Linked DNA regions of Homo sapiens: region 2 is linked to region 1. The links come from fine-mapping of genetic effects on gene expression. A gene starts in region 1. The other region holds a variant in brackets. All regions are shown on one strand. Distances are between the middles of the regions.

Region 1 (17,143 bases):
TATAATGGAGCTGAAAAATTCCTATTGCCTAGTGACATAGTAGCCATGGTAACATTGTAGCACAACACATTACTCACATATTTGTGTTGATGCTGGTGTAAACAAACCTACTGCATTGCCAGTTGTATAAAAGTATAGCACATATGATTATGTGCTATACATAATACTTGATATTGATAATAAATGACTATGTTACTGGCTTCTGTATTTACTTACTACACTTTTTATTGTTATTTTAGAGTGTACTTTTTCTATTTATATTTAATATTTTTTAAAAAGTTAACAGTAAAACAGCCTCAGGCAGGTCCTTCAGGAGGTATTCCAGAAGAAGATATTGCCATAAGAGATGACAGCTCCATGCCTATTATTGCCCCTGAAGACCTTCCAGTGGGACAAGACATGGAAATGGAAGGCAGTGATATTGATGCTCCTGGACCCTGTGTAGGCCTAAGCTCAGGTGTGTGTATTTGTGTCTTCCTTTTTAACAAAATAATTTTAAACATAAATTTAAAAACTAAGGAAGAAAAGAAAGAAAAGGCCAGGTTCAGTGGCTCATACCTATAATCCCAACACTTTGGGAGGCCAAGGTGGGAGGATCGCTCAAGCCAAGGAGTTTGAGGCTGCAGTGACCCATGATTGCACCACTGCATTCCAATCCAGGTGACACACTGAGCCTTCATCTCAAAAAAGGCCATACGGTGTATTTGTGCTTTAAGTTAAGTGTTGTTATAAAAGAGTCTATGGCTGGGCATGGTGGCTCAGACCTGTAACCCCAGACTTTGGGAGGCCGAGGCAGGCAGATCACTTAAGGTCAGGAGTTCAAGACCAGCCTAGCCAACATGGTGAAACCTCATCTCTACTAAAAATACAAAAATTAGCCAGGCGTGGTGGTGCGCACCTGTAATCCCAGCTACTCAGGAGGCTGAGGCACAAGAATTGCTTGAACTCGGGAGGTGGAGGTTGCAGTGAGCAGAGATCCACTGCACTCCAGCCTGGGTGACAGAGCAAGACTCAATCTCAAAAAAATAATAATAATAATAATAAATAAAAAATAAAAGAGTCTAAGAAGTTTTAAAAATTTTTTAAGTTTATAAGGTTTAAAAGTTATAGTAAGCCAAAGTTAATTTATTATTGGAGAAACATATTTTTAAATAAATTTAGTGTAGCCTAAGTGTAGAGTGTTTATAAAGTCTCCTATAGTGTATGGTAATGTCCTAGGCCTTCACATTCACTCACCACTCACTCACTGACTCCCCCAGAGCAACTGCCGGCCCTGCAAGCTCCATTCATGGTTAAGTGTCTTATATAGGTGTACCATTTTTTATCTCTTATACCATATTATGCCTGGGTGCAGTGGCTCACACCTGTAATCCCAGCACTTTGGGAGGCCAAGGTGGGTGGATCACTTGAGGTCAGGAGATAGAGACCAGCCTGGCCAACATGATGAAACTCCATCCCTATTAAAATACAAAAAATTAGCCAGGCATGGTGGCAGATACCTGTAATCCCAGCTACTCGGGAGGCTGAGGTTGCAGTGAGCTGAGATTGCACCACTGCATTCCAGCTTGGGTGATAGAGCCAGACTTGGTCTCAAAAAAAAAAACCATCATATTTTTACTGTACCTTTTCTATGTTTAGATGTGTTTAGCTACACAAATACTTACCACTGTGTTACAATTGCCTGCTACATTCAATACAGTAACATGCTGTACAGGTTTGCAGCCTAGGAGCAATAGGCTATCTATTCCATATAGACTATGTGTATAGTAAGCTATACCATATACCATATAGGTTTGTGTAAGTATACTCTATGATGTTCATACAACTATGAAATCGGCTAATGACACATCCCTCAGAACATATCCTTGTCATTAGCAATGCAAGACTGTACTTAAATACTACAAAAATTTAGTAGTACCAAAAGTACTACAAAAATATGAGATTTTGAGGCCAGGTGCCGTGGCTCAGGCCCATAATCCCAGGACTTTGTGAGGCCGAGGCAGGCGGATCATTTGAGCTCAGGAGTTTAAGATCAGCCTGGCCAACATGGTGAAATCCAGTCTCTACTAAAAATATAAAAATTAGCCAGGTGTGGTGGCGCACACCTGTAATTCCAGCTAGTCAGGAGGCTGAAGCACAAAAATTGCTTGAACCCAGGAGGCGGAGGCTGCAGTGAGTCAAGATTGCACAACTACACTCCAGTCTGGGTGACAGAGCAAGACACTGTCTCAAAAAAAAAGAAAAGAAAGTAAGGGCTGGGCGCGGTGGCTCATGCCTGTAATCCCAGCACTTTGGGAGGCTGAGGCGGGTGAATCACGAGGTCAGGAGTTCGAGACCAGTCTGGCCAACATGGTGAAACCCCATCTCTACTAAAAATACAAAAAATTCGCTGGGCGTGGTGGTGGCTGCCTGTAATCCCAGCTACTCTGGAGGCTGAGGCAGGAGAATCACTTGAACCTGGCAGGCGGAGGTTACAGTGAGCGGAGATTGTGCCACTGCACTCCAGCCCAGGCAACAGTGGAGACTCTCTAATTAAAAAAAAAAAAAAAAAAAAAAAAAAAAAAAAAAGCATGAACGAGACTTTGAAAACTCTAAAAAAACATCATTTCAGTTGACTACATTATATTCCATCCTATAGATGTGTCATAAGACCAATTCTTTTTTTTTTTTTTTTTTTTTGAGACAGAGTCTTGCTCTGTCACCCTGGCTGGAGTGCAATGGCACAATCTTGGCTCACTGCAACCTCCAACTCCTGGGTTCAAGCGATTCTCCTGCCTCAGCCTCCCAAGTAGCTGGGACTACAGGTGCTCACCATCACACCGGCTAATTTTTGTATTTTTAATAGAGATGGGGTTTCACCATGTTGGCCCAGCCAGATCAATTATTTAATGTTGTCACTCTCTTTAGGAAGTTGTTTTTAAGTTGTTTTTCTACTCTTAATTATTATACATGAAACTGCAGTGAACATTTCTTTACATAAATTTTTGTACATTTTCCTAATTACTTCCTTGAGAGAGATTCCTTGAAGTGGAATTGCTGGTCAAAGAGTCACTACTAAAACATAAATGTGATCTTTACCACAATTTCATATCCTTTATCTTCTTTTATCTCTAAATAAACCTGGGAAATAAAGCTGGAAAGACGTGGATTATTATTTCCATTTGATCAAGAAGGAAACTGAAAATGAGAAATTAAAAGGATTTGCCCAAATCTCATAGCTAACAGCCGAGACTAGACTTAGTACCCTGCAGTGTTATGAAAAAGTTTAAAATCAATGCTCTACCCTCAGATGAATTCTTAGGTAAGTCATATTGCCTCTCTAAGCCACAGCACTTTTACCTTAAAATAGAGAAAATACCACCTACTTCACAGAGCTTGGTACAAATAGAAAGAGTAGTACTATACGTAAACAATCTGACACAGTTTCTCGGCCCATGGAGGTACTGAATACATATTATTTCACTGGCCCCTTTAATTCACTTCTGCAGGCAAATCTTGTTCAACTGCCCTCTCCCTGATTGTGGCTCCATTATTTGGGCCTGTTTTACAATTAACTGTTTGCTCTCTCTTCTGGATTCAAGGGGGCTTTATCCATCCTTACATCTGGTCAACGCTAGACCTACAGTAAATCCTTAGAGGGTGTTATGTCTTTCAAGAAACACATATAGAGCATTTTTCAAGTGCCAGACTATCAGTGTAAATGTCAGATTACTGGTTTTCACTTTTCTGATGTAGCCCAGCTTCACACTCTTAAACTGCTAGAATTAGAGGGGACTTTGGAGTAGCAGCTTTTTATTGTAACAAAAAGCCTGGCTACTGGGCCCAGCTTTCCCAGTAACTCAGTGTGTAAACTTGGCCTAGTTACTTAAATTCTATGCCTCAGTGTCCTCATCTGACAATAATACTTACTTCACGAGGTGCTGTGAATTTTAAATAAGAGAACGTATATAAGTATGTTTCATACACTGTGCTGAGAAAAATACATGTAGCCTCGTGTAGAATCAGTGAGAAATTTGCCTGCCTTTATTAGCTGTGACTGCCACAGATAGGAGACTAGGAAGTGATGGCAAGAGTAAAAAATTGTTTCAGTTCCTGATCTACCTCCGTTTATCTTACAGGTAAAAAAAAAAAAAAAAAATTGAGGCTCTGCAAAGACAAGTGATTTGTCCAAGCTCACACAGCAAGTCAGTTGGAGGGTCATGAATGGAACTTCTGTTACCTAATGGCTTCCAGGTTTGACGGGATTAAGGAAAACGAAAACCACAACAATTTTAGGGTGAATAAAGAAGCATCCTGGCTGGGCATGGTGGCTCATGCCTGTAATCCCAACACTTTGGGATGCCAAAATGGGAAAATCACTTGAGGCCAGGAGTTCAAAACCAGCCTGGGAAACATAGTGAGATTCCATTTCTACGAATTTTTTTTTTTTTTTTTTTTTTGAGGCAGAGTCTCACTCTGTCGCCCAGGCTGGAGGGCAGTGGCGCGATCTCAGCTCACTGCAAGCTCCGCCTCCCGGGTTCACGCCATTCTCCTGCCTCAGCCTCCCGAGTAGCTGGGACTACAGACACCCGCCACCATACCCGGCTAATTTTTTGTATTTTTACTAGAGATGGGGTTTCACCGTGTTAGCCAGGATGGTCTCGGTCTCCTGACCTTGTGATCCGCCTGCCTCGGCCTCCCAAAGTGCTGGGATTACAGGCGTGAGCCACCGCGCCCAGCCAAAAAAAGTTTAAATTAGTCGGATGTGGTGGTGTGCACCTGTAGTCCTCGGTACTTGGGAGGCTGAGGCTGGAAAATCACTTGAGTCCAGAGGTTCGAGGTTAGAGTGAGCTATGATTGCACCACTGTATCCCAACCTGGGTGACAGAGTGAGACCCTATCTCTAAAAATAAAAATTAAAAAAAAGAAGCATACCCAACATCCTGAGTGTCCTGCTACCGTACTGTACTTGCCATACCACACTGTTAACATCTGCTTATGCACACACAGCATGGCTTTCCCAGTAGGTGGTGTGAGAACGGGGAGAGGCAGAGAGCTGAGTTCAGTTGGAAGGCTCATTCAGATGGAAGCCCCCAAGGGGATCTTCTTAGGAGGGGGCGGCCAGGGGCTACTCAGACATTTGGAAGACAGGCAAAAAGCATCCCAGCAGGCAGCTGCCTGAGGCAGATCTAAGCAGACAGGTCATGCACAGTGGTGCATGCAGAATTGCATTTGTAAGATAAGCATCAATCAAATCTTTCCTCTATTTTGTGACAGTCACATAAAATGATAGAGCTATCTCCGTGACAAGCAATACAGATGAAGGCCCAGGGACCATCTGGGAAGTCGTCCCTGTCCCAGGCTGGGGGAAAGAAATGACTCCTCAAAGGGTGGCTGTGAAAAACAACCCTTTCAGTCTGATAGGCGGCAGAAATAAGCACCTAAGGAAGAAGCCAACTTCAGCCAGGAAAGAGCGGGGAGGAGGAGGAGAGAGCCCTAAAATCCAGCGAGAAGAGATCAGCTCAATAAATGGAGTGAAGAAGTGAATGAAGGAACTTACCTTTTGTTGCAAAGAACATGAGACTGAGTCCAAGAGACCTGGCATTTGAAAGATAAGCCCTGGCTCTTTCAGTGATCCTGTAAACTTAGGCAAATCACACCCCTGGCCTCAGTTTCCTTATCTATAAAAGGAGCTCATAAAATGGCTTCCTGGCAAAACTGTTGCAAGAATTAAAACCTGTATATGGGAGGGTGTTTTATTAACCCCTTATTTTGTTTGTTTGTTTGTCTCTGTGCTTCATGGTTTCTTCTAGCAAGTCATCCTGTGTAGTGGAAATAGTTTGGAGCTCCAAATCAAACAAACTAGATTCAGTTTCCAGGTCTATCATTTATTACCTATGAGACCTTGGCAAGAAATGTTACATGATTAAGACAGTTTCCTCATTCATAAAACAAGTGTTGTTGGGAAAATTATAGGTAATGTGGGTTATACATCTAGAATAGTACAGTAATTTCTTGGTATAGGCAAGGGATTGGCTCCAGGACCCCCATATATACCGAAATCCACGCCTACTCAAGAACCACAGTTGGCCCAGTGGAACCCACCTAGACTAAAAGTTGGTCCTCTGAATATACAGACTTCACCTCCCTTCACTACTGTATTTTCTTCTCTTTTTCTTCTTTTTTAAGAGATGGGTGTCACTCTGTTTCCCAGGATGGAGTACAGTGGCCTGATCATAACTCACTGTAGCTTCAGGTTCCTGGGCTCAAGCGATCCTCCTACCTCAGCCTCCCAAATAGCTGGGATTCCAGGTTTGAGCCACTGCGCTTGACCCACCATGGTATTTTTTTTAATCAGTGTTTGGTTGAAAAAAAAAATTCAGGTATAAGTGAACCTACACAGTTCAAACCCATGCTGTTCAAAGGTCAACTGTATATGCAATATAGCAGGGGCTCAATAATGTAATTCCCTGTCTTCCTACTTGGAGCATTTCAGTGAGAATAAGAAGGGAGTTGGGCAAATGTGGACCTCATCCTCCTTTAAGCCATACTCTACTTTTCTAATTCAATCTGTCTTTAGACCATTCCCCACTGCTGACCCATCACCACCTTCTCATTGTTTTCCCAGGTCTCCTAGAGCCACAGAAACAATATCACAATAGCTACCATTTATTGAGCACCTACTAAATGTCTAGCATTCTACAAGATGCTTTCAAAGCATTCCATCTTGCACCAACAGATGCTTGATATTCATTTCCTTCCTCCTCCAGATTGGAAAGAGATAGCCATGGGTGTGTCCACTGACAAAACAGGAACACCTGCAGAATAACATCAGTGGCCTCTCTCTTTGTACATTGTTTTACAGTTTACAAAGTTCTTTTCACCCACATTATCCTATTTGATTCTCACAACAATTCTTGGGAATGGATGAAGAAATTGAGGCAGGAGCACCAATTATTCATTCAATCAACATTCACCAAGCACCTACTATGCACCAGGACCTGTGCTATACTTTAGGGAGATGGAGAGAAACCCTAGGAGCTTCAAGCTTAGAGGGGAAATCTATTTAAATATTTTGTATAGGTTACTGATGCCTCCCTTCATGTCATAATCTTTAAGAAACTGAAGATCTATTTCTTGGACTGGAGATGCTTTTAGATTTTTGCCTTTTCCCATACGGTTTCCTCTGATAGGAACACACTTTCCTCCACTGCTAGCTAAATCCTTCATGACCAGGAAGGCTTCCCCAACCCACCCACCTCCCCCAAAATGCTTCTTCTCTGGCTCCCACAGGGCACCAGGGCTTTCCACTTCTATAGATAGGGCCTTTCACGGCTTCCATTGTCTTCCTCTGTTTATAGGCACAGAACAGGTGGACACCCACCTGTGCGCGCGCACACACACACACACACACACACACACACATCCTCTCCTTTTACTGTCTCCCACCCCTTTCCATCTGGATTCCAGGAAGCCGGGGGAAGAGGGCCCATCTTGTTTTGTGTGTGTGTGTGTGTGTGTGTGTGTGTGTGTGTGTGTGTGTGTGTGTTTTGAGGGCCCATCTTTCTCCCACCTCCTCCACATCTCTCTTAGCTTCCAAAGGCTGCTGCCCTGCCCTCCCCAAAGTTGCTTCCATGCTTGGACTACAGAACAGAGTTGGATGACTTTTTCTGTCCACGATTCTCTTATTTTCTGTGATCCCCGGTGCCCGTGTAACAAGGTCCAGTGCCTGGGTCCCCTCCTTGGACTCCTGAGTGGCCGAGACACCGCTAGTGCGTGGACACCACTCCAGCCCCCATTACCTTTCCACCCTTACACCACGACCCACACCTGGCCTCCTCCCCAGGCTGACCCAGCGCCCCACCACCCTATCTATACACTCCAAGTTCTCCCACGATTCCTCCACTTGCAGCCGCCAGACCCTACTCTATTCCAGAGCCTCCTCTCCACTCCTGACCAGAATGTAGGCCCCTGTGTCCATTTCCAAGGCCACTTCCCTGTGTCTCCACCGGCTCCCTGCCCCCTTCCTCTGCAGCAGGGTAGACCCAACCTGGCCTCTCACCCTTCCATTCTCCCAAGCTTCCCGCCCCCAAGCCCCACCCCTCGTCTTCCATCTACAGTTACCCCCACGCCGGTCCCCAGCCGGGCTCAACCTCCGACCCCAGCTATCCATACCCACATCCCCCATAAATGACCCTCTTTCGACCAGACACTGCCCTGCTGCCTTTCTCCTTCCCAGCTATCCATACCCACATCCCCACCCCCGACCCTCTCCCAACCAGACACTCCCCAGCTGCCCAGCGCCCCTTGCCCTCGGCACCTCAGTCCCCTCCAGCTCCAAACGACCCCCGCCCAGCCAGTCCCCTCCCCTCAGCTCCTCACCTCCATGCCTCCCCCCGCACCCCCGCTCTAGCTCCCCTCAGTCCGCTCCCTTCACCGCCCCCTTCGCTGCCCCTCGGCTGCCCGGTACCACCTTTCCGCACAGCCCCACTCCGCCCTCCTCGCAGCTCCCCCGCCCCCCACGCCCCCGTTTCCCCCAGCGATCCCTCACTGCCCTCCAGTTGCCCCCCATCTCTCCTCCCAGCCCCAGCGCCGTCTTTCTTGCTCCCCTCCCGCCCTTGGAGCTCCCCCGGCTGCCCCCAACGTCTGGGAGACCCCCTCGGCGCCCCCTCCCTAGGTGAGCCCCACCTCTGCCGCCGCGGAGCCCCCTCCCTCGCTCCTCCCCCGGCTTCCTTCCGCTGCCCCGCGCTCCTTCTCGGCGCCCGCTCTCGGTGCCCAGCGCCCCGCGCCGGGGATCGGTCCCTGATCCTCCGCGGGCGGGCTGCCGGGGCCGCGCCCCTTACCGCGGACTCCGAGTGCGGGACGACGGGTTCGCTCCCGGACGGTCGGCGGGACGGCAGGACCTGGCGTCGGGAGGGCGCGGAGGGGGCCGGGGCGGGGCGCTGCGGGATGGTCTGGTCCGGTCAGGTCCTCACAGTGGCGCCTGAGGGCTGAGGCTCCCGCTCCAGCACTGCTCCGCTCCGGCCGCATCCAGGCCCCGCCCAAGGGCGGAGTCTGTGTTCGCCCCGCCCCGGCCCTCAACTCCTAGCAGGTGTAATCCGAGGTGACTCAGGACCTCCAGGTCCCCCATGTCTGGGTGACTCTCGTGATTTATCTTAATTGTCATGCCTCGTTCCATTGACTGAACTTACTAGGGTAATTAGAGAGCTTTGATGATAATGTAGCTGATGATGGGTAGCAGTTTTGCCATTTCCAAACTGCTTTCTGGTCCGGTCCGTTCTATGGCTCCGTCTTCACAAAAGCCCAGAGAGGGAGGCTGACTACAAGCGGAAACCAAGCCAGAAACCTGGACGCTGTCCTCTACCCTATCTGTGTTTCCTTCACACCCCACATCCCACCGCCTTAACATATCCCTGCCCTTCCTCTGTGTCTCCATTGCCCTTGTTCTGACTCCAGCATCATCACTTCTTGCTTGGACTAATGCAACAGCTTCCTAATTCCTGCCTTCACTCTCCAATTCACCCTATAAAACCAGGACGTGGTGTCAGCATGGCCATTTCCACCCTTGTACAAAAATTCTTTCTCCTGTGGTCTCCAGTCATACCACCCTCCACCCCTCCTCATCACTGACACCCAATTGTTCCTTATGCATTAAAGATTGCAGCCCCTGGCCCATGGTCATCCTAACTAGCCCCTGTTCTGCCATACTCCTGGTGACTTCGGTAGCTGTGAGACTTCCTGGTCCCATTCATTCTGAGTCAGATACCAAAATCATTTTGACACAAGCCCGAGCAACCCTTTAAAAAATGTCACCATGTTACCATCAACCTTGTTTAAGAAAACTCTCGGCCAGGCACAGTGGCTGACGCCTGTAATCCCAGCACTTTGGAAGGCCAAAGTGGGCAGATCACTTGAGGTCAGGAGTTCGAGACCAACCTGGCCAACATGGTGAAACCCTGTCTCTACTAAAAATACAAAAATTAGCCGGGCATGGTGGTGCATGCCTGTAGTCCCAGCTACTTGGGAGGCTGAGGCAGAATTGCTTGCACCCAGGAGGCAGAGGTTGCAGTGAGCCGAGATCACTGCACTCCAGCAGTGCACTCCAGCCTGGGCAACAAAGCCAGACTCCATCAAAAACCAAACAAACAAACAAACAAAAACCTCTCAATGGTTTCCCATTACCAGGAGGCTGTCAACAGGAGTAGAAAAATGTTCTTGCCTGGCCTGGCCCTAGGAAGTCCCACTTCCACTAGAGGAGGCAGATAGAGGAGGCAATAAATACCCCACCCTCAAATCCTGATATGGACTTCCAGTCTTCCTGAGGTCACAGGAGCCAGCTGAAGGCTTGCTCTAGAATCATTGTCTTTCCCCACACTTCTCCCCCATCTCAGATCTTAGAGGTCTGAGTCAAATACCAAAACCATTTTCCCCCCAAGTTCCATTATGACCCTGTCTACAGTGTACATCTCCAGCCTAGGAACCACCCAAGCTGACAGCTCCTCTGCTTGTCTGGCCTCTGCCTCAGACGCTTACTCTTCTGAGCTTCTTGCCCAGCCCTTTCACTCACACTGCCCATCACACTGGCAGCTCTTTCCTCTGTGCCTTCTAGAATCCTGTTCTTTTGTCAACAAACTCTGCTATACCCTCTGCTTCTTCAGAGTACTCAGGTGACTTCTTTGCCTGAGCCTCCTCCAGGTACTGCCTCCTTTGCTGCCCTCTGCTAGAAGGCTTCTCATTTTTCCACTCCCCATATACTATAAAACTAGGATGTGGGGATGGCATGGCCATTTCCACCCTTGTGCAAAAATTCTTTCTTCTGTGCTCTCCAGCCATACCCCCCTCAACCCCTCCTCATCACTGACCCCCCAATTGCTCCTTATGCATTACAGATTGCAGCCCCTGGCTCATGGTCATCCTCACTAGCCCCTGTCCTGCCATCCTCCTGGTGACTTCAGTAGCTATGAGATTTCCTGGTCCCTCAGTCCTTGTCCTCCACATCACCTTGGCCACCAGCTCCCATGGTCACTCTTGAGCTCTTAATCACCCACTGCTGGTACCTCTGTAATAGCAAAATCAAACATGCTACGCTGAACTGCTCCCTCACTCTCTTTCTCTCACAAGGCCCTACTTCCCTCATTTCAAAATAGACGAGATGATAATGATTATTCTTTCTTCCTAGGAATAATGAGACAGCATATAGAGCCATCCTTTTAAAGTTGTGAGACAATATGAGAACAGATGGTATTGCTTTTATGTAGCCTCAGTTCTTCTGGTTGCTTTCTCCTTCTCCCTCCTCTGAAAGGCGGTATAGTAAATTAGAAAGGGCACACACAGGCTTGGGGCCAGGCAGACCTGGTCTTCAGTCCTTGCTTGCTGTGTGATCTTATGCCAATTACCTAATTTCTCTCGCACGCACACCCCTTCCTTATTTGTAGAAAGAGCAATAATAAGAGCTGCTTCTCAGAGTTGTTGGGAAGATCAAATGAGAACACAAGCTACTGGAGAGGACTTGATAGAGTGGTAGGCATACAGTAAGCATTCAACAAATAGGAAACACTGTGCTTCGTATAACAGAAAAAAAAAAGTGCTATTTTTAAACCACAACTGCCTTCCAGGAATGACAGATCCCAATGCACAGAAAGTCCTTTTGTCCTGCTTGGGGCCTCAATTGATGAGAGTGAATACGTAACTTTGGGAGAAGAAATTGCTCTCTATGTTTAAAAAGGGAGTAGGGGTAGGTGGGGCATGATGGCCCACGTCTGCAATCCCAGCACTTTGGGACCACCTGAGGCCAGGAGTTCGAGACCAGCCTGGCCAACATGGTAAAACTCTGTCTCCACTAAAAATACAAAAATTAGCCGGGCGTGGTGGTGGGCGCCTGTACTCCCACCTACTCGGGAGGCTGAGGCGGGAGAATCACTTGAACCTGGGAGGCGGAGGTTGCAGTGAGCCGAGATTGTGCTACTGCACTCCAGCATGGGCAACAGAGTGAGACTCCATCTAAACAAAATTAGGGGTAGCAGGAGGCAGAGGTTGCGATGAGCCGAGATTGCGCCGTTGCACTCCAGCCTGGGAAACAAGAGTGAAACTCCATCTCAAAAAAAAAAAAAAAAAAAAGGTGGGGGTGGGAGGGTTGGGGGAAGGCAAATTTGGAATTCACTTGACAAAATGGGAGGGCAAGTTAATAGAGATCGGAGGGGAAAAGGAAAAAGATGAGTAAGAAAATCAATGTAAGGATAGGTGCTACATAGGTAAAGAGTCAGAAGAAACTCTCCCATGGTAGTTGACAAGAGTGTTTCAGCAGTGGGATACCTAAAATGGGATAAGTTGTTTGTTACACTAGGACGTGACCATCCTATGTGACTCTCAAGACTTCAGGAAGGGCTATTACACCCAGGAACGCTTTTTGAGAGAGGGGAATTGTGAGAGTACATGAGTAGGGAGTTGAGCAATGTGCTTTGTTAGGTCTCAGTTGAAAAAGGAGACTGGAAGCAGAGGTAACTGTGAGACCACAAGCCCTTGTGGAACTTGCAAAAACTTGTGTAGGACTTTGCACTTACATGAGTTGGGAAATGTGAATATTGAGGTTCAAGCCCATTGCATTTGGATCTTGAAGAGGCAGAGAGGCAGCCAGACAGCGGCTCACACCTGTAATCCCAGCACTTTGGGAGGCCAAGGTCGGCAGATCACCTGAGGTGAGGAGTTCAAGACCAGCCTGGCCAACATTGTGAAACCCCATCTCTACTAAAAATACAAAAAAATTAGCCAGCATGGTGGCAGGTGACTGTAATCCCAGCTACTTGGGAGGCTGAGGCAGGAGAATCGCTTGAACCCGGGAGGCGGAGGTTGCAGTGAACCAAGATCGCACCACTGCACTCTTGCCTGGGTGACAGAGTCAGACTTGGTCTCAAATAAAAAAAAAAAAAAGCCGGGGGCGGTGGCTCATGCCTGTAATCCCAGCACTTTGGGAGGCCGAGGCGGGCGGATCACGAAGTCAGGAGATCAAGACCATCCTGGCTAACGTGGTGAAACCCTGTCTCTACTAAAAACACAAAAAATTAGCCGGGCGTCGTGGTGGGCGCCTTTAGTCCCAGGTACTCGGGAGGCTGAGGCAGGAGAATGGCGTGAACCCTGGAGGCGGAGCTTGCAGTGAGTTGAGATCGCGCCACTGCACTCCAGCCTCGGCGACAGAGCGAGACTCCATCTCAAAAAAAAAAAAAAAAAAAAAGGAGGCAGAGAGGCCACATCTGACATTTGGGTTGCATCATTTATGCCCTCATAAGCTACCTTCTTATTGACTAAGGTAACCACCTGAGGGAAGAACAACACAAATCAAATTATACTGGACTGTCTTCACTTCCAGATCCAAATGCCCAAGGAAGAATGGGAAGGAAAACAAAATTCTTTTTTTTTTTTTTTTGAGATAGAGTTTTGCTCTTGTTGCCCAGGCTGGAGTGCAATGGCGTGATCTTGGCTCACTGCAACCTACGCCTCCCGGGTTCAAATGATTTGGCTGCCTCAGCCTCCTGAGTTGCTGGGATTACAGGCATGTACCACCACGCCCAGCTAATTTTGTATTTTTAGTAGAGACGGGGTTTCTCCATGTTGGTCAGGCTGGTCTCAAACTCCTGACCTCAGGTGATCTGCCCCGCCTCAGCCTCCCAAAGTGCTGGAATTACAGGCATGAGCCACTGAACCTGGCCCCTGAATGAAGACAAAATTCTACCTTTTGTCTTGGCTCAGATTAGTTAACAATTATATTCATTGAATCTTTAAATTACACTAAGATTATTCACATCTTTTATCTCATTTAATCCTCAATATAATTATGCAAGTTATAGATTATCATCCCTTTTTTATAGACAAGGAAAGAGAATTGAGAAAGTTTAAGTGACTTGCCCAAGGTCATACAACTGGTAAGTGGCAGAGCCAGATAGCAGGTCTGTCTGACTCCAAGGACAGGGCGTTTTCTATTAGACTCTAAAATTATATTTTGATTGCCCAGTGAACATCATTGTGATTAAGAGTCCTGCAAGGGCAAGATGGCACCTGCCTGTAGTCCCAGCTACTCGGGAGGCTGAGGCAGGTGGATGATTTCAGCTCAGGAGTTCTGGGCTGTTATGTGTGTTATGCAGAACAGGTGTTCTCACTAAGTTCAGCATCAATATGGTGAATTCCCAGGAGTGTGGGGCTACCAGGTTGCCCAAGGAGGAGTGAACCAGCCAAGGTCAGAAACAGCAGGCCAGAACTTCTGTGCTGATCAGTAGTGGGATCATGCCTGTGAATAACCACTGTACTCCAGCTGGGGCAACATGGAGAGACCCTGTCTCTATATTTAAAAAATAAATAAATAGGCCAGGCACGGTAGCTCATGCCTGTAATCCCAGCACTTTGGGAGGCCGAGGCGGGCAGATCACCTGAGGTCAGGAGTTCGAGACCAGCCTGGCCAACATAGTGAAACCCCATCTCTACTAAAAATACAAAAAATTAGCTGGGCATGGTAGTGCACGCCTGTAGTCCCAGCTACTCGGGAGGCTGAAGCAAGAGAATCATTTGAACCTGGGAGGCAGAGATTGCAGTGAGCCAAGAGCATGCCACTGCATACCAGCCTGGGTGACAGAGAGAGACCCTGTCTCAAAAATAAATAAATAAATAAATAATAGAGTCCTACAACAAAATTTCCTTTTGTAGTTGCCAGAGTAATCAGCCTTCTCCAACTCCTAGTTTTATAAGAAGTATAGAATTGATGCTCTTTTGTTGTTGTTATTAGGGTTGGGGGGGGGGGCGGTCTTCCTATATTGCCCAGTCTGATCTTGAACTCCTGGTCTCAAGCAATCCTCCCACCTCAGCCTTCCAAGAAGCTAAGATCGCAGGTGTCAGCTTTTTATTGAATGATAATCAGTGGCTTAGAAAATGGCACAAGCGGATGTCGTTTGGAATGTTCAAATTTTCACAAGGTGAATATTTACCCTAGTGTGAGTCCCTCATGGCCAGCTTAGGAACTCAGATGTGTTGACAGGTCAGACATTTCCATCCAACCCATTCAATAGATTGCTCCATGCAATAGGGTAGCTGAAGCAGGTACCTGTGAAACAGCTGAGAAATGTAGGATTCAATGAGAGGAGTGATGGAAGATCGGGGAGGAAAGAGAAGAAGAGGCCAGATGGTCCAAGGCCTTGTACATCATATTAGGGATTTGGGAGCTTACCTTGCAAACAAAAAGATTTTAAGCAATGGAGTAACATGGTTACATATTCTTGTGAGAAAGATAGCTCTGCCTGTGGCAGGGGAATACAACAGATTGGATGGGAAGGATAGGGAGCAGAGAGATAGGAGACAGAGAAAACAATAGAGATTGCTGTAATAATCTAGATAAGAGATGACTAGGACCTGAGCTAATGTCATAGCAATGGGAAAGGTAGAAAGCAGAGGGATTTGATATATATTTAGGAGGTAAAGTTCCCTGGACTTGGTGACAGATTAAATGTGAGATATAAAGAAAAGGGCACCAGCCTAAACAACCAGGTAGATAATAAAACCATTTACTGAAACAGGAAGCAAAGAAGTTGTTTCTGTTATCTATTGCTGCATTTAAAAAACACTCCCAAAAGTTTAGTGGCTTAAAACAGCAATAATTCACTATTTCTCATAATTCTGTGAGTGGCTAACTGCCTCCTTTGCTGGTTTCACCTGCGATCATTCAGGAGCTGCATTCAGTTGGAAGGGCTGCTGGCCTGGAAGGTCTAAGATGTCCTTATTCATAAGTCTGGCAATCAGTGCCAGCTGAGGACTGGCACCCCAGTTTTTCTGCATGTGACCTCTCATCCACTAGTAGGCTAGACCAGCTTACATGGTGGTCTCAAGGCAGCATTCCAAGAGTATAAAGGCAGAAGACACAATCTCTAAAGACCAAGCCTTAGAAATCGCACGACCTCACATATGCTGCATTATATTAACCAAATCAAGTCACAAGCCCAGTCCAGATTTAAGGGGTGGAAGAAATAAATTCCACTTTTGATTGGGAAGAAGAGCGAAGTCACATCACAAAAAGGCACAATATAAGGAACAAGGAGTCTATTGCCTTTAACCAAACTACTACAGGAGTAGAAACAAATGTGGGTAATGAGAGAAAATGATGAGTATCTCAAATACCACCTCCTGCACAAATCATTCCTTCCTTCTCTGTGCTTCAGTTTCTTCATTTGTAAAACGAATGAATGTGCAAGTCCATTCCTCTCACCAGCTGCTGTTTACGAGGTGAAAGTGGTTCAAATCTGCAACAAGGACACTGCTCCATCGCCAGGGCACACACTGTCAGCAGGGGTGGAATCTGAGACACACACAGGGGAAACATTCAACATGTGAATGGTCAGAACCCCGGTACCACCCACCACCCCTCCCTCCCCACCCCAACCCTGCCAATGCTTCACCAAGCCCAGCCCATTCTACTTCCCAGGAACTCTTCATTCCATAGCCACAGTCTCCTCACTATCCTGCTCCTGCAATAGCCTCCAATCTGCCGTTAGTCCGCACTCCACACTGCAACATAGGACGCTTCCTAAAGCCAGCTTGAAACCTCCCATTGCCCTACTCAGAAGCTTATCTGTTTAATAAGCCTAATGGCCCCTGGTGATCTGGTCTCATCTACCCTCCAGCCTCACTGCTGGTCACACCCCCTTCACACCCTGAGCTCCCACGACATTAAACTACTTGCAGTTCTTTGAATGTGGCCTGCTCCATAACATCTTTGTGAATTTGCATCTGTTTTTTTCTCTCTACCTAGAATGCCATTCAGTCATTTATTCAATAAATCGCTGGTTCACTCACCCAGCTAGCAAATATCTCCCGAACACCTGCTGTGCAGAGACGAATAACATATGGTCCCTGACCCAAGGAACTCAGTGTCTGGTGCAGGACAGTAGACTATAAGATCCACTAATCTGTACTCCACAAGAGGAAAGGCCATACTAGTACCCAACACAGGGCCTCCTAAACCATTCTTAGAAGAGCTCAGGGATAAGTATATAAATATTAAATACTTATACTGATGCTGAATAAATAAGTACATAAGTATTAACAAAGGATTTCTTCTCATATCTGCCATCTCATTTAACTTTCACAATGAACCTGTGAAGTTGGGACTGATTCATGCCATCTTAGATGT
Region 2 (11,816 bases), 620 kb after region 1:
GGGGCACACATAAGAGTCATCCAGGCTAATTGCCCCCTCATTACCAAGAGGGAATCTAAGCTCAGAGAAGACTTCGGAGAGGAAGGGTATCTGGGTTGAGTCTTTGAATACGAGTGGATTTTAGCAAGACTAAGAAGCAAACAGCAAGAAGGGGGTGGGGGGGCGCGGGGCCAGGAGTTCCAGCTGTTGTGCTTCAAAGAGTCTAAAGCTGGAGGCTACGAGTGGTGGAAGATGAGGCTGAAACGACTGGCAAGGGAGCAGGCGGGACCTTGAACACTACATTGAGAGGCCTGCATGTCACATTATGTGCAGTGAAGAACTCCCAGAGTGGACCTCTTCAGGATGGACCTGGGGACTGGTGTGAAATGGCTGGGGAGTTGAAATCTAATGAACAGGTGGGCCAGCGTCCAGTTTTGGATGAACCACACAAAAATAGATGTCAACATTTTTCTCCTGGGAGCAACACCATCTTTAGTGAAGACCAGTACTCTATAAGCCTTGAAATTTTCGATTATGCTGGGAGTCTTGGGGACAGTAATCCCTGCTTGATTGTCCCCCAGAGTGTCGTGAGTTTCAAATCAGATGAAGGCGTGGATGCACTTAGTAAACTGTAGAGTGCTTTGCACCTGTGTTTGGTGGATCCCAGCAGGAACTTCATTTAGAACTCTGGGCAAAGAACCAAGAACAGGGCCCGCTCCAATTCAGGCCTCCTGTTCTCTCTAGGGCAGCTCACCAGAGAGCCCCAGGTTTAGCGTCTGACCAGCTCTGCTACTTATTAATTCGTTGTTCATTATTGAACACCTACTGTATACTAACTAGATACTAGGTCAGGCCCTGGGGATACAGTGGTGAACAAAACAGATACATTTCCACTAAATGGAGCTTACATGGGGTAAGGAGAAGAAAGACAATAAACAAGGAACTGAGAAATGCACGAGGTAATTCCTAGTAGTAGTAAGTGCTAAGACAAAAATAGAACAAGGTCACACAGCTAGTAAGACAGTAAGAATTTGAACCCAGACAGTCCAGCTCCAGAGTCTATGCTCTTAGTTGCCAAGTTCAGCAGTAAACCAGGGAACAGGGAGTCCAGAAAAGCTGTAATTGGTGCTGAGTTAACCCAGGCTAGGCTTGCTGCTTGGGCAATATGCTCATTCCTTCACCTGCAAACATTTACTGGCTCCTACTACATGTCTGACACTGGGTCCAGCTCTGATGACATAGTCATGAGCAAGATTGACATGGTTGATGCCCTCAGGCTAATTGGGACCATAGTCATTTAGACCAGTATGGATGAATGGGTGACCACTTGGGAATGTGTGGGGTTATGTGTAGTGTGTGCCTTTGTGAATGGTTTACTTCTTCTGTGTACAAATCTGAGTCTGTGTCTGTGCTTGTATATGTACATATGTAAATTAACTGTGTGTACTTGGGTGTGTCTGTCTGTGTTTTGGTTTCTAAGGACCAAGCTTTTTGGTTTCAGGGATGGAACTAGAAGCCAGATTTTCCCCCTTCCAAAAGAGCGGGCAGACATGCAAGTTGTGAGTTAAAAATAAGCAAGCTTTGGCCGGACGCAGTGGCTCACGCCTGTAATCCCAGCACTTCAGGAGGCTGAGGCGGGTGGATCACAAGGTGAGGAGTTCGAGGCTAGCCTGGCCAACATGGTGAAACTCCGTCTGTACTTAAAAAATACAAAAATTAGCTGGGCATGGTGGCGTGTGCCTGTAATCCCAGCTACTCAGGAGGCTGAGGCAGGAGAATTGCTTGAACCCGGGAGGTGGAGGTTGCAGTGAGCCAAGATCGCGCCACTGCACTCCAGCCTTGGTAACAGAGCAAGACTCTGTCTTTAAAAAAAAAAAAAAAAAAAAAAAAGCTTTAATGTTCTCATTGCCCAGGGATCCAGCAGGGGGAAAAAAAGGAAGAACCCTAACTGAGGAAGGGAGTTAACAGTCCCAGTTTCTCACCATTCCAGGCACAGTATGGTGTATGCTGACCTCAAATTGAGGAGGTTGTTCTAATAGCCAGTGGCCCCAGGCATGGGTCCTTTCTCACCTGGTGGAGGTAGGGTACAGGAGGTACAGCTCAGTGGTTCAATCATCTAGCCCAGTAGTTCTCAACTAGGAGTGATTATTCCCTTTAGGGCACAATTGGCAATGTCTGGAGACATTGTTGATTGTCAAGACTGGGCATCTAGTGGGTAGAGGCCAGGGATGCTGCCAAACATCTGATAATAAATAAACAGGACATCCCCCCGACAACAAAGAATTATCTGACCCAAATGTCAATTATGGAGGATAGGGCTAGGCTGCCTAGGCACCGGCTAGGGTTTTAAATCCATTAATAATATATACCTAGAAGCTAAAAACATAGCATTTGAGCCAAAATTCTAATCAAAGTCTTATAATCAAGTTCCATTAGCCAGCTTTGTATTTATTGCCTAAAGGCTTTAATAAATTTAAGGATTAGTCTAATGATAAAAGAAAGTGGTAGGCTGGGCATGGTGGTTCATGACTGTAATCCTAGCACTTTGAGAGGCTTAGCTGGTAGGATTGCCTGAGGCTAAGAGTTTTTGAGTCCAGCCTGGACAACATGGCGAGAACTGTCTCTACCAAAAGTAAAAATTAAAAAATTAGCCAGGTGTGATGGCACGTGCCTGTAGTCCTAGCTATTTGAGAGGCTGAGGTGGGAGGATCACTTCAGCTCAGAAGTTTGAGACTGCAAACGGTTGGGGGGATGTCCTGTTATGATTATGCCATTGCTCCAGCAGCAACAACAACAAAAGTGGTGTTAGTTCTCTGGAGAGGAGGGGGACAAAAAGGTGATTGCCCTGGAGTTATGAGGGTTCTTTTCTCAAGAAAACCTGTGTCTATGTTCCCATGCAGGCGTTTGTGTTTGTGTGCACACTTACTCATTCATCTGAAACTTACTGAGACTTTTTCATATGCCAGGCCCAGAGATGAAGTGGACATAGCTCCTGCCCTCAGTAGGTTCACATTCTAGAAGGGAGACTGACACAGTGCAGAGTGGCGAGTGCTAGCTGACTGAGCCAAAAATTGAGCCCAGGTCTCCCTTTGTACCCCCTCTTATCAGTTCTCAGTATGTGCTCACCAGTATGTGTGCCCCAGTCTGTGGATGTGCTGTGTGTGTGGGCATGTGTGGTGTTTGCTAACATGTTTGTATCGTGGTGCATGTGCATACCTATTTATGTATGTTGTATACTTATGTTCACAGATGTTCATGTATGTGTGCACACATCTGTAAGCTCCTGAATGTTTGATTTCATATGTGCCTGTCTGTGTGCATGTGTTTGTGTATGTGTGAGAGCACTGGACACACATTTACATATGTGTACACAGTGTTCTTGTATGTGTGAGGCAGTATTAACTGTTGAGGGAGTCACATATGTGGATGTGTCAGGGCATGTACAGGTTCATGCCTCTTCACTGGCTTGTCTGGGCTTTGTTTTGTTTTGTTTCTGTCATACAGGTGTCCCTGGTGGTGAATGTGGCCAGCGAGTGCGGCTTCACAGACCAGCACTACCGAGCCCTGCAGCAGCTGCAGCGAGACCTGGGCCCCCACCACTTTAACGTGCTCGCCTTCCCCTGCAACCAGTTTGGCCAACAGGAGCCTGACAGCAACAAGGAGATTGAGAGCTTTGCCCGCCGCACCTACAGTGTCTCATTCCCCATGTTTAGCAAGATTGCAGTCACCGGTACTGGTGCCCATCCTGCCTTCAAGTACCTGGCCCGTAAGTCCTGGTCTCTTCATCCCCTCACACCTCCCTTAGCTGGCTGAGGCCATGGCTCCCTGGGCAGCAGAAGCCACTGGCTGGTTGGGTGACCTGGGGCCCCTTCCCCTTCCTGATCATCTCAGGTGGACTGATGCTTTGTTCCAGCACTAATCTTTGAGGAGAGTGGAGGCAGGTAGAAGCTGAGGGGTATTCCTGCCTAAGAATATCTCCATACCTGCTGCCTCTCACTTGTCCCTCAGAAGTCACTCTTTTGGACTTTTCTGGGATCCTGTTTTCACATTCAGGGGCTCCTAGAAGGAGACATTTAAGTCAGTGTGAACTAGATGAGTTTATGGACATA[T/C]GATGGAGAAACCAAGGCATAGACAGGGGAGGCCACCTGCTTGGAGAAAGCTGACCAAGATAGTAGACAGGCATCTTCACCCTGAGTCAGTGGCGGAGTCTGTAGGCCATGGAGGGAGACCTTCTAAGCTAAAATACCAGATCTTAGTATTTGAGAACAAGATCCCTTCTCCAGCTGCAGAAGCCTCAGAGCCACAGAATGGGCTCATGGGCTAAGCTTGCCATTCTGACCATTTCTTCCCTCAGGCCTTCTCCTCTGGAGGCCCCATTTTTGCCTTTTCTGATTCCGTGCTTCTGGTGGCCTTTGTATCCCTTGCCACCACCCCACCCTGCAACCCATTCACCTGGAGGAGTAAATGAGAAGCAAGAGTGCAGCAAACAAAAGGTCCCTTACTGCGGCAGGTTTGTGTTTTGCTCTGTGGCTCAGTCCTAATGTTGATTTTTTTCTCTGTGTTCTTTTATTAGTTCCTTCCCAGTTCTCACAGTTATAGATCAAACCCGGCCTTGCTTTTAGAAGCACCTGGGGAGCTCTTAAAAATGCACAAGGCTGAGACCTACTGAAGCAGGGCCCAAGAATCTTTATTTTAAGCACTCCCCTGACCCCCAGTGATTCTGATGAAACCAGTCCATGGACTAACATTTGGAAACCATTAAAACTGAACTAGAGAATAGGGTGTAGACTATTCAGTAGTTCGAAGTCATTAATAAAGGAGGATTTGATACCACTTTATCAAGCACGTCACAGAATCCTACAGCAGTCGTTCTCAACCTCGGCCCCACTTTGGAATCTCCCAGGGGGCTTTTGAAAAATGCTGATGCCTGAGCCTCACCCTCAGAGATTCTGGTTGGAGTGGTCTGGGGTGTGGACTGGGCATCAGGATTAGCTGCCACCAGGGAAAGATGGACACTGAGAGTGAAGTCCCAGGAGAGGGTACGCAGGGTAGCACGCTTTGCTCTCCTTCCTTTTTCTCTAGAGACTTCTGGGAAGGAGCCCACCTGGAACTTCTGGAAGTACCTAGTAGCCCCAGATGGAAAGGTGGTAGGGGCTTGGGACCCAACTGTGTCAGTGGAGGAGGTCAGACCCCAGATCACAGCGCTCGTGAGGAAGCTCATCCTACTGAAGCGAGAAGACTTATAACCACCGCGTCTCCTCCTCCACCACCTCATCCCGCCCACCTGTGTGGGGCTGACCAATGCAAACTCAAATGGTGCTTCAAAGGGAGAGACCCACTGACTCTCCTTCCTTTACTCTTATGCCATTGGTCCCATCATTCTTGTGGGGGAAAAATTCTAGTATTTTGATTATTTGAATCTTACAGCAACAAATAGGAACTCCTGGCCAATGAGAGCTCTTGACCAGTGAATCACCAGCCGATACGAACGTCTTGCCAACAAAAATGTGTGGCAAATAGAAGTATATCAAGCAATAATCTCCCACCCAAGGCTTCTGTAAACTGGGACCAATGATTACCTCATAGGGCTGTTGTGAGGATTAGGATGAAATACCTGTGAAAGTGCCTAGGCAGTGCCAGCCAAATAGGAGGCATTCAATGAACATTTTTTGCATATAAACCAAAAAATAACTTGTTATCAATAAAAACTTGCATCCAACATGAATTTCCAGCCGATGATAATCCAGGCCAAAGGTTTAGTTGTTGTTATTTCCTCTGTATTATTTTCTTCATTACAAAAGAAATGCAAGTTCATTGTAACAATCCAAACAATACCTCACGATATAAAATAAAAATGAAAGTATCCTCCTCATTTTCCATAGTCTCCCTCCCTAGAGGTAAACAGTGTTAGCAGTTTGGTACAAAGGCTGCCAGGCCTTTGGTTAAGCCAATCATTATTGCCCAATAAGAACTCAGTGACCGGGCACGGTAGCTCACGCCTGTCATCCCAGCACTTTGGGAGGCCAACGTAGGTGGATCACCTGAGGTCAAGAGTTTGAGACCAGCCTGGCCAACATGGTGAAAACCCATCTCTACTAAAAATACAAAAATTAGGCTGGGCGCGGTGGCTCACGCTTGTAATCCCAGCACTTTGGGAGGCCAAGGCGGGCGGATCACGAGGTCAGGAGATCGAGACCAACCTCGCTAATACGGTGAAACCCCGTCTCTACTAAAAATACAAAAAATTAGCCGGGCGTGGTGGCGGGCGCTTGTAGTCCCAGCTACTCTGGAGGCTGAGGCAGGAGAATGGTGTGAACCCGGGAGGCGGAGCTTGCAGTGAGCAGAGATCGTGCCACTGCACTCCAGCCTGTGCACTCTAGCCTGGGCGACAGAGCAAGACTCCGTCTCAATAATAATAATAATAATAAAAATAAAAAAATAAAAATACAAAAATTAGCCTGGCATGACCGGGCACAGTGGCTCATGCCTGTAATCCCAGCACTTTGGGAGGCTGAGGCGGGTGGATCACCTGAGGTCAGGAGTTTGAGACCAGCCTGGCCAACATGGTGAAACCCCGTCTCTACAAAAATATAAAAATTAGTCGGGCATGATGGCAGGTGCCTGTAATCCCAGCTACTCTGGAGGCTGAGGCAGGAGAATCGCTTGAATCCGGGAGGCAGAGGTTGCTGTGAGCGGAGATAACGCCACTGCATTCTAGCCTGGGCAGCAGAGAGAGACTCTGTCTCAAAAAAAAAAAAAATTCACTGAGTAATCCACTAGCCAAAAGTACACCTCAATAACAAATAGGCAAAGGAGATGAATAGATAGTTCACGGAAGACTATAGATGCGTAATAAGGATACAAAAAGATGTCCAGCCTCATTGAAGTTGGAAAGTTTTTTGTTTGTTTGTTTTGTTTTTGTGATGGAGTCTAGCTCTGTCACCCAGGCTGGAGTGCAGTGGCACAGTCTCGGCTCACTGCAAGCTCTGCCTCCCAAGTTCACGCCATTCTGCCTCAGCCTCCCGAGTAGCTGGGACTACAGGCGCCCACCACCACGCTCAGCTAATTTTTTTTTTTTTGTATTTTTAGTAGAGGCGGGGTTTCATCATGTTAGCCAGGATGGTCTCAATCTCCTGACCCAGTGATCCGCCCGCCTCGGCCTCCCAAAGTGCTGGGATTACAGGCGTGAGCCACTATTCCCGGCCGAAAGATATTTTTTTAATGATAATACCCCTGGTTGGCAGGGATGTGAGGAAATGGGCATTCACATAAACTGTGGTACGATAAACTGGCACAAGTGTTTGGAGGGTGATTTGGCAATATCTTTTAAAACAAAATGCTCATACCTTTTGTTTTTGCTTTTTGTTTTGAGACAGGGTCACACTCTGTTGCCCAGGCTGAAGAAGAGTGGCTCGATCGTAGCTTACTGCATCCTTAGCCTCCTGAGTAACTAGGACTGCAGGCACACGCCACCATGCAACATAGTGGGACCCCACCTCTACAAAAAAATATTAGCTGGCCATGGCAGTGCATGCCTGTAGTCCCAGCTATCAGGAGGCTGAGGTGAGAGAATTGCTAGAGCCTGGGAGGTCAAGGCTGCAGCGAACCGTAACCATGCCACTGCACTCAGCCTGGGTGACAGAGGAGACCTTGCCTCAAATTATAAACTAATATGGTTATTAAAATGAATGAATGAAGTCTCCATATGCTACCATAGAAAGTTGTCCAAAAGTGAAAAAATGATAAGTTGTAAAACAGAATGAACACATTCACATACCCAGAAAAACCAGTATGAACAAGTGTAATGTTTTTATTAAAAATGTACAATGTTGCTGGGTGCATTAGGTGGCTCACGCCTGTAATCCCAGCACTTTGGGAGGCAGAGGTGGGAGGATTGCTTGAGCCCAGGAGTTCAAGACCAGTCTGGGCAACATGGCAAGACCGTGTCTCTGCAAAAAAATTTAAAAATTAGCCAGGCGTGGTCACTCACACCTGTAGTCCCAGCTACTCAGGAGGCTGAGGCAGGAGGATTGTTTGAGCCCAGGAGGTTGAGGCTGCAGTGAGCCGTGTTTGCGCCACTGTACTCCAGCCTGGGCAATGGGAGTGGACCCTGTCCCAAATTTTTAAAAAATTTACAATGTTAAGTGGGAGGGAAAGAGAGAGGGAAAAATATAGACCAAACTCTTAATGGTGGTTGTCTGCGAGGGGCTGAGGTAGGATAACAGGAGTCATTTTCATTAAGTTTCTGTAATGTTTGAATTTTGTATGTCAAATCCATATTTCACCTTTATATAAATGTGGAAAGGTGGCTAAAAATTGGGGTGCAGCCTGGGAAACACAGTGAGACTTCATCTCTACAAAAAATCAAAAAATTAGCCAGGTGTGATGGTGCACACCTATAGTCCCAGCTACTCAGGAGGCTGAGTGAGGAGAGTCACTGGAGCCTGGGAGTTTGAGGCTGCAGTGAGCTATGATCACGCCACTGCACTCCAACCTGAGCAACAGACCAAAATACTATAAAAAAAATGGGGTGATGGGCAGAGTCACTGGTAGATAATTCATTGGCCAATAAGAATTTCAGGTGTACTTTATCTAAGGTCACTCTTCTAGAAGTCTGGAGACTCAGATTCAAGTTCCTGTTGTGCCCCTGACTCACAGCAAATTCTTCCCTCTCTCCTGTCCTCCGTTTTCTCACTGGACAATGAAAGGGTTAAACCGTGCTTAGGATTTTCACAGTCTCCCTTCATGGTGCTTCTCAAAAGCTAACAAAAGTAAAGTGAAGGCTGTCCATGGGGTGACCACAGCCCCTCCTATGGTGGCCTCTCAGCTGCCCTTACACACCCTCCTCTTAGCTGCAGCTCTGCATGTACTTGTGTGCATGCACACACACACAGTGAAGCCCAGCTTGCACACATGTTCACACTGGACATCTGGGAACCACAGTCTCCTGCAGCTACCTTCCTCCCTCCATACCCACTGTCTCCACCACCCGTATGTATGCCTCCCCTCACTGTGCCCACCAAGGCCATCACTTAGTGCCTTATCGTTAAAGCCAATGAATATCTCTCACCTTGTCTTCCTTGACCTCTCAGCTGCATGTGACACTGCAGACTCTGCTCTTCTCCCTGGCACTTGCTCGGTCCTTGGCGTTCCTCTGTCTTCTCTTAGTTTCCCCCATCTCTCTAAGTGTTCCTTCGTTCTCAGTGTCAATGTCTCTCCCTTCTCTATCCACCCCTTCCCTGTTGGTCTTCCATGGGGTTCTAGTCTGATCTAGTTTCTCACCCCATATACCGTTCTGTAGCCAGCTCATTTTTTCCCATGGTTTTGACCACCATCTACACCCTGCTGACACCCAAATCTCTATATCCATGCAGGACTCCCATCCACCTGCCTCCTGGGCATCTCTACAGATACCTCAATTCAACATGGCCAGAACTAAATTCACCCTCATCTTTCCCCAACACATCTGCTCTCCCTTCCATTCTGCCTTGGCAGCCCCTGGAGCTTTCTCTTTCACACACCACTTACTTATCACACTCTATTCCCATCACTTAAGAAACTGCCCTCCCTTCCCTCTCCTGAGCACAGTGCTAGGCCCTTAATAGATGAAATTAAATTATGTCATAAGCCTTTGGAGTACCAACTCCATGCCTGCTCCTGCCTAAGCCCTATCTGGAAACCAAAGATGAGCAAGCCCATTTCCTCAGAAATTTAGAGTCCGTCTGAGGACCTTACGCTCCCAATTAGCCCTGTGTTTCTGTGGACTTTATCAGCTTCTGCTGTTCCCAACCCCCCTCTAATACATGCAAGAGTCCCCTAGGAAAAAGTTACTTTAAATCCTTATCAACAGTCACCTTAGTCATTGGTTAACCAGTATCTGCTAAGATCTTGGTTTTAAATTAATCCCTTGGTTATCAAATAACACTTGAGTAGTTAATATTTGATTATCTACTAACACCACCTTAGTTATCTTCTAACACCTTATTTACAAGCCAAATACTTTATTTATTCAGTTATATCTTAGGATTTAGTAGTTTAAAAGTATTTGCTATGTCTTAGTTATTAATCAAATTTTCTTTTTTTTTTTTTTTTTTTTTAACAAGGTCTTACTCTCTCACCCAGGCTGGAGTGCAGTGGTGCAATCACAGTTCACTGCAGCCTCAACCTCCTAGGCTCAGGCAATCCTCCCACCTCAGCCTCCTGAGTAGCTGGGACCACAGATGCTCACCACCATGTCTGGCTAATTTTTGTATTTTTTGTAGAGATGGGTTTTTGCCATGTTGCCTAAGCTGGTCTTGAACTCCTGGGCTCAAGTGATCTGCTCTCCTTGGCCTCCTAAAGTGCTAGGATTACAGGTGTGAGCCACCACGCCCAGCCTTAATCAATATTTTAGTTACCTGATCCCTTAGCTCTCTGCTGAGTTTAGAGTAGATTAGCAAGTCAGAAACCATCAGTTAGGAGTTTGGGGAAGAGGTCATTTCTGAATATGGAAAAATACAGGCCTTTGTCTTTTACTGAGCTCTCCTCTTACCCCCAAACGATTCTCTTTCAACATCAACTGGCCCCAGGTCCTGAGAGAAAAGGAGGTCCCATCCTAATTGCTTATTTGTTTCTCTGAGCCAGGCTGTAGGGGACTTCCTGGAATGTTGTGATTGGCAGGGACTTTCATTCATCAACAAATGTTTCTTGAGCACTGCATATCTGTCAAGTTCTCCCTAAGTTCTAACTGTACATCAGCAAACAAAATGGGCATGTTCCCAGCTGCTATGGCTCTTAGAGAACAGTGGAAAAGATAAACATTAAACAAATAGTTATTCTGATTATTATGTGATTACAATTATGATAAGCACAGGGATTATGATAAGTACAGGGAGCTGTGAGTGTGTATAAAAGTGGCACTTGACCTATTGTGGGATTCAGAGACTTCCTTGAGGAATGACATTAAAGCTGAAAGCTGAAATTTTAATAAGAGTTAGGGAAAAAATGGTAAGGAAGTCCTAAGCAGATAGAGTGGCTTGGGCAAAAGCCTAAAGGAAGGAAAAGGCTGATATGATAGAGCTAGTGCTGCCTGGAGCCACATGATAAGGAGAAGGACCAGAGAAGTAGGCAGATGCCAGATCATGCAGGGCCTTGTGGAATCTAAGTGAGAAATGATGTGACCTGGCCTAGCATGAAGCGTCTGTCTTCTATTGGTATAAGAAGATCTTCCTTAGAGTCCCAAATCTGACGGCCAGAAATAAACCCTGGGGCAGAGGCAGTCATTGAACCACTGGTAGAAGAAGGCTGCAGCTGAATGCAGTGGCTCACGCCTGTAATTCCAACACTTTGGAAGGCTGAGGAGGGTGGATTACCTGAGTTCAGGAGTTCGAGACCAGCCTGACCAACATGGCAAAACCCTGTCTCTACTAAAAATACAAATATTAACCGGGGGCAGTGGCTTGTGCCTGTAGTCCCAGCTACTGGGGAGGCTGAGGCAGGAAAATCGCTTTAACCTGGGAGGCGGAGGTTGCAGTGAGCCCAGATTTCACCACTGCACTCCAGCCTGGGCAAGAGTGAGGCTCCATCTCAAAAAAAAAAAAAAAAAGGAGTAGGCTGTTCTGCTTTGGGGGCTGCCTGGAGGACAGGTCACCACGGAGACACCTGTGAAAAGCAAGCAGCCCTGAAATTCCCCAGCTCTCTAGCTGAGCCAGCCAAGGGGTAGCTGAGAAGATTGCCAAGACTGGAGTCCCTACTAACCACCTGCTTTCACGGATTCCTGGACACCCCTGGAGTGATTACATTGCAGATAGTCCATTTTTTTTTTTTTTTTTTTTTGAGACAGAGTCTCGATCTGTCGC

Direction of the effects. Positions count from the first base shown, and alleles are read on the strand shown. Sizes are in standard deviations (SD) of each study's normalised expression.
For the expression in sun-exposed skin of the gene that starts at base 8,971 in region 1, C is the high allele of the variant in region 2 and T is the other (large effect, 0.87 SD a copy in GTEx).

Evidence for each region. PIP is the estimated chance that this variant, and not a neighbour inherited with it, causes the effect.
Region 2: its variant is fine-mapped to the expression of RAB3B in sun-exposed skin (GTEx, PIP above 0.99).

The regions. Positions count from the first base shown.
Region 1 is chr1:51,981,730-51,998,872 of GRCh38, forward strand. RAB3B (RAB3B, member RAS oncogene family) reads right to left here and starts at 8,971. Exons shown (of 5, transcript NM_002867.4): 1 at 8,823-8,971. It also overlaps the pseudogene RN7SL290P. RefSeq lists a silencer at 8,885-8,994.
Region 2 is chr1:52,603,201-52,615,016 of GRCh38, forward strand. GPX7 (glutathione peroxidase 7) reads left to right here. Exons shown (of 3, transcript NM_015696.5): 2 at 3,484-3,745; 3 at 5,062-5,851. The coding sequence ends at 5,225. Among named protein-coding and RNA genes, the nearest start is that of GPX7, 6.7 kb to the left of the region's middle. The variant T/C (reference allele first, on the strand shown) is at 4,089.